2 separate regions of the Homo sapiens genome follow, and region 1 is linked to region 2. Evidence: fine-mapped expression QTL. A gene starts in region 2. The other region holds a variant in brackets. All regions are shown on one strand. Distances are between the middles of the regions. Region 1 has its middle 3.5 kb from the start of OR10P1. Region 2 holds the start of TMT1B (thiol methyltransferase 1B).

Region 1 (2,917 bases), 48 kb before region 2:
CTCTGATGCATCTAGACCCTGCCAAAAACAGGAAGAGAAGAGGAACAGTGGGCAGATCAGGGCCCATTCAGGGCCTTAGGACCTCTTGCTGTGTGTTGGGAGTCAGTATCTGTCCCTGGGCGTGGGAGAAAAAAGTCCAGAGACGGTTCCCAAATCTCTACTATTGCATTTGCAGAGGTGTGATTCAGATATCATTAAGCTGGCTGGACAGGGAGAAGGGCTGGGAAGGAGACAGAGAATGTTGGACAATTTCTGCCAGATAAAACTGCACATAACAGAACAAGGCAAGTGTGTATATACGCAGACTGTGCAAACCTTTTATGTATGGTGTGAGTAGGTATGCTGTGGGGTATGTGTAGCATGTTATAAGTGTGGTGATCGTGTCATAGGCATGTCTGTGGTATGTCTAATAGGATGGGGTGTGTGGGGTGAAGTGATGGAGTGAGGCAGTGGATAGTGTGTACAGGCTTGTGGGTTTGCGTGCAGTGTGTAAGTCAGCTGGGCATCACAGCCTCAGTACTGTCTATGGTCAGCATCTCTCAGGCTCCTGTTAATGGGTCCCATCCCAGATCCCACAGACAGCTGCCTGCATCCTCCTTTGCTGCCCCACACCCTCTCCAACACACACACATATACACCATGTGCAGCTCCCATTAATACTTTAGACAAAACAAAAAATCTGAAAGAACAAAAGCTAGTTTATTGCCTGGCTGTGCTCCCCCAGACCTCTCTGACCCAATAAATGTTGTCCTTCCCTCATTTCCCCCATTTCCCGCAACCCCATTAGGCTCCAGAATCCCAACTCCCTTGCCCCCAAGATGTCAAAGCTACCCCTCAAGATCTGCTTTCTGTTCCATTCAGCCTTTAACAGCCTCATCTCCTGCATCCAGGGGTCACGGGTAACCAGTCCTGTAGCCAGCCAGCCACACCCTGCTGGTCATCCTCTGTCCATCTAGCTGGTTAACCACAGGTTAGCTGTTCCCCAAGCCACATGCCCATTCACTGATCAATTTGCCATCTGCCTGTCTCTCTAAGGCTTATTGGAGGTATACGGATGGTTTTATGGTTTTAAAAAGAGCCACGGAAGGGGGAAATGGAGAATTGCTTAATGGGTATAGAGTTTTCATTTTGCAAAATGAAAAAGTTCTAGAGCTCTGTTGAATATACTTAACAATACTGAGACATACACTTAAAATGGTTAAGATAGTAAATTTTATGTTATATGTTTTCACCACAATAAAAAATAGTGTTTTTTAAAAAGAACTTCATCCCCTCTCTGTGACCCTGCGGGCAGTTACTCTGTCTTTCTCAGCGATCCTCTGTGGGAGGCTTTGAAAAGTTTAGTGGTGACTTCAGGGCCAATGTCTCTCTGAAGATTGTCCCAACTGTGTCAGGATGTGTGGGAAGAGGAA[A/G]AGGGAAATTATCAGAGTCAGAGTGGAAATAGGGAAGGAAGAACAGACAATCTGGGGGAAACTTGCCTCTCCACCCTCACGGACGACATCTTAAGGCAAAATCTAATTAGAGGTCTGAGAGTGAAGAAATGCTCACAGTGTGGAAAAGGTGAGGTGAGTATGGAGGGAGGGACAGGCCTGGATGAGGACAGGGAGGGTCAAGGAGTCCAGAAGAGGACAGGGTGAGAGAGGGCTGAGGGGAAAAAAAAAAAAAAATCCTATTGGCACAATGTACACTATTTGGATGACGGGTGCACTAAAATGCCAGACTTCATCACTATACAATTCATCCATGTAACCAAAAACCACTAGTACCCCTAAAGCTATTGAATTTTTTTTAAGGGACCTGTTTTACTAAGAGATGAAAGGTTGGTATTGCCACTCATGTGTCCAGCTACAGGAATCCAAAACAATTATAACACAGCGAGACCCATAAAAATGTCCACATGCTTAGCCAATAATATTACTCTTAATTTACCCTAAGGGAATAAGCTAACAGAGCAAACTGAGACACACATGAAAATATTGTTTTCATCATTGTCTACCATAGCAAAAAAAAGATGGGACAGCGTAAAGTGCACAAGGATGAGAAGCGTTTGTTAAATGTTAGTGGAGAAATTCAATGGACTACTACAAGAATTTTTTTTGAAAGATTGTTCAGAATACCATGCGGTCTCATGGCAAAATGCTTACAGCAAACATTAAAAAAGGAAAAGAAGACATAAGGTATATACACTATGACTACAAGCATAGAATATGGGTTTGCAGTGGGACAAAGACTTGAGAGTGATATATGAGAAAAAAAGAATTTAAGGTGATGGAATAATGGTGGATTTATTCCAAATGTTTCCTAAATATTTTTAATTGAAAAAAACAACATTTTAAAAATTTGAAAACATCAGGATCTATTTCGTGTTTTCTTGGTGGTGTGGACATCTGAAAAGTTTTTTTTTCCTTTTTAATCAGCCAGCCCAAAATGTCATGAAGATTTATGGACGAAAGTAGAGAGGACTAATGAACTCAGATACTCCTTCTGTCCAAACTGACTACATGCAAGTTCATCTCCCAAAAGTGTAGAGTGAGGCTATTGGCCTCACAAGACATATAGTAAGTATGTGGTTGATACCTCAGGCTCAAAATTACAATTCTGGTTCTGCTGTTCACTGACTTTGTGATCTTGCATAGGTCGTTTAAACCCTCAGAGCTCTGGTTCTTTATCTGCAATGACAAAATAACAATTGTCACTAATGTTGTTATAAAGGTCAACTGATATACTGTATAATCCCCAGCACACAGCACTCTCCAAACATAAGCTAGAATAAATGGTTTAAGGCCACAAAAAAAAAAATATGTTGAGAGAGCAGAGTGAGGGTGGGATGAAAGTTAAGTGCAATGGATAGAACTTTGAGGCTCTGTTTCCTAAATATGAAGATGGCCAGACTAACCTCATGGCGTGGGTCAATATG
Region 2 (2,917 bases):
ACTGTAAATAAATAAATAGGGTATTAGGTTACAAATCAGTGAATAAAATAGGAATCTATGCATCAATAATAATATGAACACATAAAAGACACATAAAACCAAATATTGCTGGTGGACGTGTAAATGGGTACAATCACTTTGGAAACCCATTTGCTATTATCTACTAAATCCAATACATTGTTAAGAAGGGGGGGAAGCAAGGTATACAAGAGTGTGTACAATATACTACTATTTGTAAAAGAAAAGGGAATATGTATATGTATATATGTACATGGATCTAAACACGTGGTGTGTGTGTTCCCTGCTCGTTCACAGGTCATCTCTGGAAGGATTCACAAGAAATTGGCAATATGGCATTTAGTGCCTCCAGAGAGGAGATCTGAGTGGTTGGGTCACAGGAGTAGAAGAGAGAATTTTCCCTGTAATCTCTTTAGTATCTTTTTAATTTTGTACTAAGTGAATGTACTGCCTCTTCCAAAAAAAGTTGTTTAATAATGTTTTGTAAAAAGAATTCTTCTCAGCCAGGCGCAGTGGCTCCCAACTGTAATCCCAGCACTTTGGGAAGTCGAGGTGGGTGGATCACCTGAGCCCAGGAGTTCAAGACCAACCTGGGCAACAGGGTGAAACCCTGTCTCTACAAATTACAGAAAAAAAAAAATTGCTGGGCATGGTGGTATGCACTTGTAGTCCCAGAAAATCAGGAGGCTGGTGTAAGAGGATCACTTGAGCCTAGGGACATTGAGGTTGCAGTGAGCCCAGACTGCTGCCACTGCACCCCAGCCTGGGCAGCAGAGACCCTGTCTCAAAAAAAGGAAAGAAGGAAAGAAGGGAGGAAGGGAGGGAGGGAGGGAAGGATCTCTAAAAAGTGGCTATTCTCTGACCTCACTTCCCCCTATTTGTCCAACTTACCCCATTCCCCACAGAACTAAACTTCTCACCCTTTCCAGGAGAGGGCATGCTGTCTCTGTCCTGTACACCTACTTTTTCCTCTGCCAAGAGCACCCTTCCCTTCCTATGGCCCCTCTGAAGTGCCTGACCTGAGGACGAAATGAGGCCAGGATATGTCCCATGAGTCAACTCTGTCCCCAGCATTCACCACTACCAACCCACCCCCAACGCCCTGCCAGCCCCCGACACTCCCCCGCCATGAGTCTGTCATCTGAAACATATCCCCTTACCCCTTCCCACTCCCTCTGAGATGACTCAGCAGCCCCTGCCCCCCTTCAGCTGGGCACAGTGCCCCAGAACTCAGGAACATGGGTACCACCTGTCCCTCCGCCCACATAAAAGTCATTGAAGAGCTTGTGGGGCTGTGGGACCTGCGCCCTCTGGAGGAATTCCATACACCCACTCAACTCTGGCAAATAGGAAATTGTCAAGTAGGAGACAAGGAGCAAAGTCCTATCACAGCGGGAGGGGACGCCAGCGCCTGCAGAGGCTGAGCAGGGAAAAAGCCAGTGCCCCAGCGGAAGCACAGCTCAGAGCTGGTCTGCCATGGACATCCTGGTCCCACTCCTGCAGCTGCTGGTGCTGCTTCTTACCCTGCCCCTGCACCTCATGGCTCTGCTGGGCTGCTGGCAGCCCCTGTGCAAAAGCTACTTCCCCTACCTGATGGCCGTGCTGACTCCCAAGAGCAACCGCAAGATGGAGAGCAAGAAACGGGAGCTCTTCAGCCAGATAAAGGGGCTTACAGGAGCCTCCGGGAAAGTGGCCCTACTGGAGCTGGGCTGCGGAACCGGAGCCAACTTTCAGTTCTACCCACCGGGCTGCAGGGTCACCTGCCTAGACCCAAATCCCCACTTTGAGAAGTTCCTGACAAAGAGCATGGCTGAGAACAGGCACCTCCAATATGAGCGGTTTGTGGTGGCTCCTGGAGAGGACATGAGACAGCTGGCTGATGGCTCCATGGATGTGGTGGTCTGCACTCTGGTGCTGTGCTCTGTGCAGAGCCCAAGGAAGGTCCTGCAGGAGGTCCGGAGAGTACTGAGACCGGTAAGCAGGGTGGGAAGGGGATGGGTGTGGGGCAGGCAAACGCAGCATCAGCCGCCCCAGGGTTCGGCCCCCAGAATGGGGCGTCTGAGGTAGTAAGTAGCACATTAGACACCCCATCCACCTCTACCTGCTGGTGAATAGGAGACATGACCAGTGCCATGACGGGGCACAATTGGGTGCTGTGGAAGCAACAGGAGGATCACCTACCACCATGGGACAGGGAGGGGAGTGGGGAGGACACCTAAGGAACTGAGGTTTAAATCGAGATCTGTGCTTGGGAGGCTGAAGCAGAAGGATGACTTGAGCCCAGGAGTTCAAGACCAGCCAAGGCAACATAGTGAGATGCCGTCTCTACAAAAAAAAAAAAAAAAAAAAATACAAAAGCTAGCCAGGCGTGGTGGCACATGCCTATAGTCCTAGCTACTCAGGAAGCTGAGGTGGGAGGATCACTTGAGCCCGAGTTCAAAGTTACAGTGAACTATGATCGCACCACTGCACTCCAGCCTGGGCCACAGAGTGAGACCCTGTATCAAAAAAAATAAATAAATAAATAAAAAGAGAGAGAGAGAGAGAGATCTGAGGGATTAAGCAGAGTGTGGACGGGGTGGGGAAAATAAAAGAGTGTTCTAGGTAAAGATAGTAGGGGAAGTAGAGTAGAATCCATCAGACTGTGGAGAGAACGTTCAGAATAGTTTCCAGGTTTCTAGCATGAGCAACTGAGGGGAGAGCTGATGAAAAGTGCCATTTGCTGAGATGGAAGAAAGCTGTTTTGGACTTACTAGGTTTGAGATCACCTAGGGAGAGTATAGTGAGGCGAGGAGCTTGAGGAACCCCAGCTTCAGTCAAGAGTTGGGCCTGAGGTTTCCCTGGGATGTTCACAGCGATGTCCAGGAAGCAGCTTGTGCATGCATCTGGGTTTTGTGAG

What was found. PIP is the estimated chance that this variant, and not a neighbour inherited with it, causes the effect.
Region 1: its variant is the best candidate, but not a certain one, in a credible set for the expression of TMT1B in atrial appendage (GTEx, PIP 0.51).

The regions. Positions count from the first base shown.
Region 1 is chr12:55,631,951-55,634,867 of GRCh38, forward strand. No RefSeq gene overlaps it. Among named protein-coding and RNA genes, the nearest start is that of OR10P1, 3.5 kb to the right of the region's middle. The variant A/G (reference allele first, on the strand shown) is at 1,413.
Region 2 is chr12:55,680,261-55,683,177 of GRCh38, forward strand. TMT1B (thiol methyltransferase 1B) reads left to right here and starts at 1,476. Exons shown (of 2, transcript NM_152637.3): 1 at 1,476-1,992. The coding sequence starts at 1,495. RefSeq lists an enhancer at 1,135-1,810.